Regions from separate parts of the Homo sapiens genome. Here region 1 is linked to region 2. Evidence: fine-mapped expression QTL. A gene starts in region 2. The other region holds a variant in brackets. All regions are shown on one strand. Distances are from middle to middle.

Region 1 (5,205 bases), 26 kb before region 2:
AACAAGCATGCCATAAAAGCATATTCTTCACATGCACTAGCAATTGGACACGACTGTTTACTCATACTTTGGGGAAAGAGTTACTAAAAGAAAAAAACTCTTCATCCTGAAATAATCAGAAACTAAAAACCCTGGCATAGCTTTCTAACAGACTCCATGAGAAAAGCAATAAAAGAATTAAGAGAAGTAAGTGAAAAGTAACTTTAAATCTACCCCCAGAATTTAGTTATTTTTAGAGCTCCACATATGCCATCTGCCTCCCAAACATGTTTATGTACACTAAATTATCAGTTTATTGCCTGTAGTAAAATATCAAAAAAAAACTAAGAAACAAGATATACACTGAGTTAAATATCTCAGTTTGTGAAATCCACCCTTATAGACTATACTATATGCTAATTTCGAAAAAAGCATTATTTTTCTAGTAAATTGTTAAAACTTCATTTTAAATCTAAATTTTAAATTTTAAAACTTCATTCTGGCCAGGCACGGTGGCTCATGCCTGTAATTCCAACACTTTGGGAGGCTGAGACGGGTGAATTGCTCAAGCCCAGGACTTCAAGACCACCCTGGGCAACATAGGGAGACGCTGTCTCTACAAAAAATTTTAAAAATTAAGGCTGGGCGCAGTGGCTGTATTAAGGGAGGCCGAGGCGGGCGGATCACAAGGTCAGGAGATCGAGACCACGGCGAAACCCCGTCTCTACTAAAAATACAAAAAATTAGCTGGGCGCAGTGGCGGGTGCCTGTAGTCCCAGCTACTCGGGAGGCTGAGGCAGGAGAATGGCGTAAACCCAGGAGGCGGAGCTTGCAGTGAGCCAAGATCGCGCCACTGCACTCCAGCCTGGGCGACAGAGTGAGACTCCATCTCAAAAAAAAAAAAAAAATTAGCTTGGTGTGGTGACGTGTACCTGTGGTCCCAGCTACTCAGGAGGCTGAGGTAAGAGGATCATCTGAGCCCAGGAGGTGGAGGCCACAATAAGCAGTTGTTGGGCCACTGTGCTACAGACTCAGCCACAGAGCAAGACCTTATCTCCAAAAATAAAATAATAAAATTAAATTGGCCAGATGCAGTGGCTCACACCTGTAATCCTTCGGGAGGCCAAGGTGGGCAGATCACTTGAGGTCAGGAGTTGGAGATCAGCCTGGCCAACATGGGAAAATCCCTTGTCTACTAAGAACACAAAAATTAGCCGGGCGTGGTGGCACACACTTGTAATCCCAGTTACTTGGGAGGCTAATGCAGGAGAAACACTTGAACCTGGGAGGTGGAGCTTGCAGTGGGCCAAGATCACGCCACTGCACTCCAGCCTGGGTGACAGCAAGATTGTCTCAAAAAAAAAAAAAAAAAAGAAAGAAAGAAAAGAAAAAGAAGAAAAGAAATACAGGGGACAGAAATTATTTGGAAGTACCTTTACTATTATCTTGTTTATTTGGCATTAATTTTAAAAGTCCAAGAAGCTTTCATGACTCTTTTTCTTAATGATGCAATGATAGTGGGAATGCAGGGAAATGAGCACTCTCATTCCCTGGTAGAGGGAACACAATTTACAGGGCACATTGGAAAATAGGAAACTTGTGCCTGGTATATGACAATCCTGTAAAGAAGGTCTCTACAAAACTATGTGATAAAGATACAATAAATAAGGCTGAGTGCAGGGGCTCACGCCAGTAATATCGGCATTTTGGGAGGCCAAGGTGGGAGGATCACTTGAACCTAGGAGTTCAAGACAAGCCTAGGTAACATAGCAAGACCCCGTGTCTATTAAAAAAAAGTTTTTTTATTATAAAAATCCAATAAATAGGTATTCTAAACTCTTCTGTGCACAGTAGCCACCTTTTAATATTTTCCCTAAAATCTTTACAATGGAAAAACATACAACAGACTGAGGAGAATCACTCATACTCTCACCACCCGTGATGAAATTCTTGAAAATGTCAGGCCACGTGTGGTGGCTCATACCTGTAATTCCAGCACTTTGGGAGGCTGAGGCGGTGGATCACGAGGTCAAGAGTTCGAGACCAGCCTGAACAACATGGTGAAACTCCATCTCTACTAAAAATACAAAAAATTAGCCGGGCATGGTGGCACGCGCCTGTAATCCCAGCTACTCAAGAGGCTGAAGCAGGAGAATCGCTTGAACCCGGGAGGCAGAGGGTGCAGTGGGCCGAGATCACACTACTGCATTCCAGCCTAGGTGACACAGCAAGACTCCATCTCAAAAAAAAAAAAAACAAAATTCTTGAAAATGTCATTGATTAGTCAGGAAAAAAAATTGTTACTAAGAGGCACTATGCTAGGTGGTAGAGATTTAAAACAAACATTTTTTGAAAATGCCCCATCTTCAAAGAGATCATACACATGACAGTGGGTGGAGTACAATGTCTTTTTGGAAAGGACTATGATAAGGACTATAAAGGGCACTGAAATGGTATCTAACAAACTGGGAAGGGGGCACAGGCCAGGGAAAAAGTTGGCTCCTGAGCTAAAGAAATGGGGGTGGGGAGGAGAAGAATAACAGCCAGAATAACAGGAACGGCATTTACAAAGGCAGAAAGATGGAGCAAAGCAGGTTGAGAGAAATGCAAATAAAATCACTGAACACTGTGGGGGAGGGATGTTAGAGCAGGAAGGCACGGATGAGGCTGGAGTGGTAAGCAAACATCTCAGGGAGGCCTTCTATGCCTTGGAGTTTTGCAGACCACTTCCAGCCCATTCCAATATCTACCTGAAATGCCCAAGTGAACTACAGGAAGCGAGTGCACC[G/A]AAGGATTCCTACCACTTCCCCTCCATGTTAAAAACCAAGATGCTAAAGTGGAACAGCAGTGGCAGCAATGCCAAGAACAAGCAGGGGAGGCCCCCGCATCCACACAATAAAAACAGCATCTGACTAAAAACCGGAAGCTCAATTCGGCAAAATTCTTGCTGTTTTGAATAGGTGAATGCACTACACATATTTATAACTGTGGTATTGACGGCAATTTTTTTTTTTTTGAGACAGATTCTCACTCTGTTGCCCAGGCTGGGGTACAGTGGCATGATCTCAGCTCACTGCAACCTCCGCCTCCCAGGTTCAAGCGATTCTCCTGCCTCAGCCTCCCAAGTAGCTGGGATTACAGGCGAGTGCCACCATGCCTGGCTAATTATTGTATTTTTAGTAGAGACGGGGGTTTCATCATGTTGGCCAGGCTGGTCTCGAACTCCTGATCTCAGATGATCTGCCCACCTTAGCCTCCCAAAGTGCTGGGATTACAGGCATGAGCCACTGCGCCTGGCTGACAGCAATTTTTTTCTTTATATTCCTAATTTTTGATGAACACAGACTGCAATTATTTCACACATACACCCAAGAAAGTTTGTATACTCAATGCAATATCTTGCAGTGCAAGGGTCTTTAACCATCATTAGCCAGTGGACTTGGAACTGAGAGTTTAAAACAACCATTAAGGAGCACATCTATGTAACACGCTGGTCTCCAGTGCTAAGATTCTTGAGGACAGAGACCGCATCTTATTTCTTTTTTTTTTTTTCTTTTTTGAGACGGAGTCTTGCTCTGTTGCCCAGGCCGGAGTGCAGTGTCACAATCTCGGCTCACTGTAAGCTCCACCTCCTGAGTTTGCGCCATTCTCCTGCCTCAGCCTCCCAAGTAGATGGGACTACAGGCGCCCACCACCACGCCCGGCTAATTTTTTTGTATTTTTAGTAGAGACGGGGTTTCACCGTGTTAGCCAGGATGGTCTCGATCTCCTGACCTCATGATCCACCTCCCAAAATGCTGGGATTACAGGCGTGAGCCACTGCGCCCGGCACATCTTGTTTATTTCTAAACCCCTTCCTTTCTCCTCCCACCACCAGCAAGCACCTAACACTTCGCTTTTACACACAGGAGGTGTTCAATAAATGTTCATTTTATTATGCAATAATGCCATACATTTGTAAGACAGCTAAACAAAAAACTGGAATGCACAAACAGTTTATACACTGGGCTTGGGAATTTCATGAGTGGAGATAATGACAGTGTTTATACAGGACTCTGGTTTATGAAAAGCTTTCATATACATTCTGTCATTCAAGTCTCACATTAACCCAATGGAAGAAGCATTCGTTACCCTCCAGTAGGCAGAGGAAATAGAAACTAAGAAATTAAGTCATCTGCCCAAGGTCACATAGCTAGTGACAGACCAAAGACTCTGAATCTCGGATTTCCTCACTCATAGGCCACTGTTCTCTCCCATGACAATCTTCAGTTAATTAAAAAAAAAAAAAAAATGGCTGTAATCCCAGCACTTGGGAGGCCAAGGTGGACGGACTGCTTGAGCCCAGGAGTTCAAGACCACCTGGACAACATGGCAAAACCCTGTCTCTACAAAAGATACAAAAATTATCCAGGCATGGTGGCACACACCTAAAGTCCCGGCTACTCAGGAAGCTGAGGTGGAAGAATCACGAGCCCAGGAGGTTGAGGTTGCAGTGAGCTGAGAAGATACCACTGCATTCCAGCTTCGGTGACAGAGTGAGATCCTGTCACTCACACAAATAAGAAAATTATTGAAAACATATTTGCTAAGCAATGTCCTAATGTGCTGGGAAATAAAATGATGAACAAACCCTCAGTCCAGGAGGAGAAAACTTAGAATCCAGAAGGAGAAAAAAACACATTAAACAAGAAAATAATTGCAAGTGTGAAAGGACAGTACGGGGATCTACATTGAGGCTCCCTTATTGGGAATCTCTCAAAGACAGAACTGGTGTTATATTGAATCCAAGGATTTTTCTTATTCACCTTATCTCAAACCATTTAAATTAAATATACAGGCATCCACTTTGGAAGGTGCTTTCAAATCACCTAGGGATCTTATTAAAATGCATTATAATCCAATGATTAGGACCCGAAATCCTGCATTTCAAACATACTCCTAGGTGGTGCCAAAGATCCACACTTTGAGAGTCTACAGCAAACTTCTCAAGGATTATGGTTATGTAGAGACACTGATCCTCTCAATCCTGAGAGTACTTTCTGTCACCAGAGGACCAAGAGCAGTTTTTCTTCTGCTACATAAAATGACAGTGGTATTTTTCTTCCTTAATGTTAAGTGATATCAAAAAAGGCAAAGACATCACTAACAAGTATAGTTATCCCTAGACAACACCTTACAAATACATTCCCACTTGAAAGAAAGCTAAAATCAATAAAGCTCACCAGG
Region 2 (5,205 bases):
TGTATTCAAAAAATAGCATCAGAAACTTCTCCATCCCCTAGTTTCAGCCAAATATGGCTCTTCCCTGCTTTAACCTTTTTTTTTTTTTTTTTTGAGACAGAGTCTCACTCTGCCACCCAGGCTGGAGTGCAGTGGCGCGATCTCGTCTCACTTCAACCTCTACCTCCCGGGTTCAAGTGATACTCCCGTCTCAGCCTCCCAAGTAGCTGGGACTACAGGTGCGTGCCACCTTGCCCAGCTAATTTTTGTATTTTTAGTAGAGACGGGGTTTCACCATATTGGCCAGGCTGATCTCGAACTCCTGACCTGGTGATCTGCCTGTCTTGGCCTCCCAAAGTGCTGGGATTACAGGCATGAGCCACCGCGACTGGCCTTGCTTTAACCAATTTAGCTTACTAGACACAAGCCCATCAGCAGTAGTCATGGATATCATCTACAGTGCTATTTTGAATACAGCTTCTAAATTCTTGAAAACAATCAAACATTAGCAATGTAAAATTAAGCTCAAGATGAGAAGCTTCAAGTTGAGATACCTGAATATGGTGATTAGAACTAAAACAAGAAACTGCCCAGGCACGGTGGGCTCACGTCTGTAATCCCAGCACTTTGGGAGATCAAGGCAGGCAGATCACTTGAAATCAGGAGTTCGAGACCAGCCTGGCCAACATGGTGAAACCCCCATCTCTATTAAAAATACAAAAATTAGCCAGGCGTGGTGGCGCGGGCCTGTAGTCCCAGCTACTCAGGAGGCTGAGGCAGGAGAATCGCTTGAACCCGGGAGGCAGAGGTTGCAGTGAGCCGAGATCACGCCACTACACACTCCAGCCTGGTGACAGAGCGGAGACTCCGTCTCAAAAAAAAAAAAAAAAAAAAAAAAGAACTAAAATAAGAAACAAGGACTTTTTTATAAAATCACCCAGTCCTGTCATCTAGCCCTATGCCAATCCGACAAACTCAGAATCAACTTCTAGGAGGAGCCTAAGAAATCCCTTTCCGTTTAAAGGTTTTAGGCAAGTTGACACAAGCCAGGTCCCCTATGCATATTGGAAATATCAAGTCTGCCCCTAGGTCAGCCTTGTTCAGTTTTGCTTAAACACCCTAAAAAAAAAAATTCTAGATGTGAGCATGTGAAAATAAGAGTGAATTAAATTCTCAGTATTCAGACGTCAATGTAATGACTAAAAATTATTAGGCAAGGAAAGAAGAGAAATCTTAAGAAAATATCCTTTAAATGCTAATTTCTCCACAACAGTAAAACAGTATATGGGTGAGTTTCAACTTCTAAGTTTTTTATTAGTTTTCTAAACACAGACTAAACATGGAATGAGTGCATCACAACGAAGCCTTCAAAGGAGTTATTCCTCAGGCTGTAACCCCTGTTTTCAGAGGACCTGAGGCTTATCTACTGCCTCCATATCCACATCTGGCCATCCCATCCTTCTGCCCTTCCCCCTCCACGTTCCCCTCCACTCGTCTGGAACAAACGATAAGTAAGTGAAATAATGACCAGCACTAAACATGACGCCAAAGTTGGCATTTACAAATGATTTTCAAAACAACTCCCCAGTGGACCTAATCAACCTAGGCAGGGCACACTATCCAAAACCTATTTGCTGGTTGTCTAAAAAGATAAAACTCATCCTCTTCAGGGAAGTCCTCTGGGAGGAAGGGCGCCTCTAGGAAGCAAGGGGGCGGCTCCAGACCCCTTTCTCAGGGACCCCCGTCTGTGTCCAAGGGATCCCGACCCGCAAGTAGCCTTGTTTCAGTGTTACATCTACAGAACTTGTCATCCCAACTTCCCAGCCCTAAGACGAGAGAGGAAGTTAAAAGGGTCCTGGGATGACAGGGGAAAGTACGACAGTCTTATCTTCTGTGCTTGGGACCCAGAAAAGAGCAATGGGCAGCCGCGACGGAGCCATTCAACCGAGCACCGCTTGGATACGGATTGTGCAGGCGAGTGGGAGATACCCACGAGAAGCGCACAAACAAGCCCGGGAATGCGAGCGAAGGCAGAGACGGGGGTGATGAAGGAATCCAGGCGCTGGCCCCGGGGTGTGCCGGGGGGGAAGAACCTCCTCAGGGCTGCAGGAGCCCACGAGTACTCGAAGCCCTATGGGGAGGCGGCGGTTAGGTAGTCCGAGCGCTCCGCGCAGTCCCGGGGCCCCGCTTGGTGGTGACGCCGGGCCCCGGGAGCGCTGGGCCAGGAGGGTCGGGACGAGGGCGGGCGACGGGCGGCGGGCGGCGGGCGGGGGCCCAGGTCCACCCGAACAAAGCCGGCGCGTGCGGGGCCTGGCTACTCACAACAAGAAGCTCATGTTGGCCGCGGGGCAGGCTGCAGGCTCGGCGGTCGCGAGGCCTCGGAGCGGCGTGGGCCAGGAAAGAAGAGGAAAGGCGAATGGAACAGGAGACAGGGAGGCGGAGGAGGAGGTGCCGAGAGCCGGCTGCTCGGTGGCCGCAACTAGTTCGGCTCAGCTAGTTCCAATGGCAGGGGGAGGGGGCGGAAGTGGGTAGCGCTCGTCTTGAATCACTCCAGGGGAGGGGAAGGAAAGGGAGGCGGGGCAGGCTCTCCGCGAGCCCCTCCCCAGCTCCCCGCCGCCCCCACCTCACGAGCTCTCGCGATAGCGGTGCAAGCCCACCCCGGCCCTCCGGCTGCGGCATGGGGACTCTCACCTTCTGGTCTCCTCTGCTGCTAGGGACGACGCCCAGCGTGTGCGCCGCGGCTGCCCGGCCCCCCTGTCCACCCGGTTAGGAGTCATGGCAGAGCTCTCGGAGCCGCTCAGCTGGGCTCCAGAGGTCAGGGAGGAAGTGGGCTTCAGCTCGGGGATGTCAAGGTCCCGCAGTGAGGGATGGAATTACCACCGGAGTTAGGCCCACCGTGAGTGTCCGGCCAAGGGCGGTGAAAGGTAATGGCATCTCTCAGTTCACCACGGAACCCAGCATGATAGGGTGGTCATCGGTGTAACCACTTAGGGGGCCAAAGCTTGTAAGCATTCTAATGCACAGAACATCCTAGAAGCTAGAAGCTATTCAGACCCACTTACAAAGGGACTTTTATTCTCACAGGGTTATGGGGCCCAGGGCAAGCCTTTATATTCTGTTTAAGAATCCTTCACATACCTTGAATATGTCACCACAGCATTACCAATTTAGGAGGGAAATACGGGTATCGAAGAGATGTCCGTCTTCTTTACTCACAACACCCATCAAATCTACAAGTTTTCAAAGAGAATCTGAGCAAAACAAATCATGTGCAGATATTAGCTCACCTTTGGCTTATCCCAAAGGGCAGAATACACTTTGAAGTAGGTGCAGATATGAAATGTATTATACTGCATATATGCACTATTATTTGGCACGTTGGTAAAGTGGTAAAAAAAAAAAAAAAAAAAAAAAAAAAAAAAAAAAAAAACGTTTTAGGCCGGGCGCAGTGGCTCATGCCTGTAATCCCAGCACTCTGGGAGGCCGAGGTGGGTGGATCACCTGAGGTCAGGAGTTCAAGACCAGCCAAAGTTCAAGACCATGGCCAAACCCCGTCTCTACTAAAAATACAAAAATTAGCCGGGCATGGTGGCACACACTTGTAATCCCAGCTACTCGGGAGGCTGAGGCAGGAGAATTGCTCCAACCCAGGAAGCAGAGGTTGCAGTGAGCCAAGATCATGCCACTACACTCCAGCCTGGGTGACAGAGTTAGACTCCGTCTCAAAAAAAAAATTTTTTAATAGAAGAAAATACTAGAATCTTGCACTATCTCAGGAACAGCAGAGGTTACTGGAATGAGAAAACTTACAGACTCAAAAGATTACCAGATCAGGATAAATAGCTAATGCATGCAGAGCTTAATACCTAGGTGATAAGTTGATAGGTTCAGCACACCACCATGGCACACACGTTTACCTATGTAACAAACCTGCACGTCCTGCACATGTATCCTGGAACTTCAAATTAAATTAAAAATTTTTTAAAAGATTCCCCAAAAAGAAGAAAGAGGAGGATTTATCTGAATGAAAATAATAGATTTATGGTATAAAACCCTGTGCTCCAAATATTGATATGGTACTGACTTACTGTATAATTCTTTTTTTTTTTTTTTTTTTTGAGACGGAGTCTCACTCTGTCACCCAGGCTGGAGTCCAGTGGTGCAACTTCTGGACTAGGCTCACTGCAACTTCTGCCTCCTGGGTTCAAACAATTCTGCCTCAGCCTCCTAAGTAGCTGGGATTACAGGCCTGTGCCACCACACCTGGCTAATTTTTGAATTTTTAGTAGAGACGGGGTTTTACTATGTTGGCCAGGCTGGTCTCAAACTCCTGACCTCGTGATCTGCCTGCCTTGGCCTCCCAATATGCTGGAATTACAGGCGTGAGCCACCACGCCCAGCCCTGTATGATTCTTGTAAGGGTCTTCTGAAAGTAAGACTTGCATTACCAGATTACTGATTATCTTTGGAAAGAGTGAGTTGACCTGTCATAGCCTCAGTTTTAGCCCATTTAAAATGGGAGCCTTCTATCATTACATGATCTCTAAAATATCTTCCAGTTCTAAAGTTCTCTCCTGCCAGGGGCATCCTTCAAATGACTGGCACACATTTCCAAACTGCTCCCTGATTTGGCTTAGGTAGCCTTAGTTTTGGTCTGACATAATTTAGATGTATCCTGTGACACTGAATAAGGGAAAACTGGCAGAGGAAAGAATCTGCAAAAATACCTTCTGAGTATTTCTTTATCATACCACTAGGAGAGTTGCCTGGAATTAACATCCAATAAAACGTAAATATACTGGTCCTAAATGTGAGGGAGGTGTCAGGTTAATAATATACAATATGATTCCAGGTTAGACTTTAAATCAAATGATGTCTGTCATATAAAATTATTCAGCATATCAAAAACATTGGGAATTTCAGAATCAAAGAGAGTTTATATTCAAATAGATATTTATAATTATCATCTCTTCTGACCAAAATCTAATAACCTTTTGTTTATGAAGCAAGATTATTAAAATTTTTGTTCTATCCAACTTTTCAAAGAATTGAAATTATACTGTAACATGTACAGAATAGAACAGAACATGAGTGGGCATATGCTCTTTAAATATTCATTTGAATAAAGACACATGCACATGTTTGTTTATTGCAGCACTATTTACCGTAGCGAAGACTTGGAACCAACCCAAATGCCCATCAACGAGAGACTGGATAAAGAAAATG

Which allele goes with the higher level. Positions count from the first base shown, and alleles are read on the strand shown. Sizes are in standard deviations (SD) of each study's normalised expression.
For the expression in aorta of the gene that starts at base 2,483 in region 2, allele A in region 1 goes with a lower level than allele G (moderate effect, 0.58 SD a copy in GTEx).

The links. PIP is the estimated chance that this variant, and not a neighbour inherited with it, causes the effect. A credible set is the group of variants that fine-mapping cannot tell apart.
Region 1: its variant is the best candidate, but not a certain one, in a credible set for the expression of MOB1B in aorta (GTEx, PIP 0.51).

What each region holds. Positions count from the first base shown.
Region 1 is chr4:70,925,330-70,930,534 of GRCh38, reverse strand. All of the region lies in intron 1 of MOB1B (MOB kinase activator 1B), which reads right to left. Among named protein-coding and RNA genes, the nearest start is that of MOB1B, 26 kb to the right of the region's middle. The variant G/A (reference allele first, on the strand shown) is at 2,768.
Region 2 is chr4:70,899,647-70,904,851 of GRCh38, reverse strand. MOB1B (MOB kinase activator 1B) reads right to left here and starts at 2,483. Exons shown (of 6, transcript NM_173468.4): 1 at 2,302-2,483. The coding sequence starts at 2,315. LOC124900711 (a long non-coding RNA gene) reads left to right here and starts at 2,621. Exons shown (of 2, transcript XR_007058132.1): 1 at 2,621-2,903; 2 at 5,135-5,205. RefSeq lists silencers at 2,154-2,203, 2,514-2,663.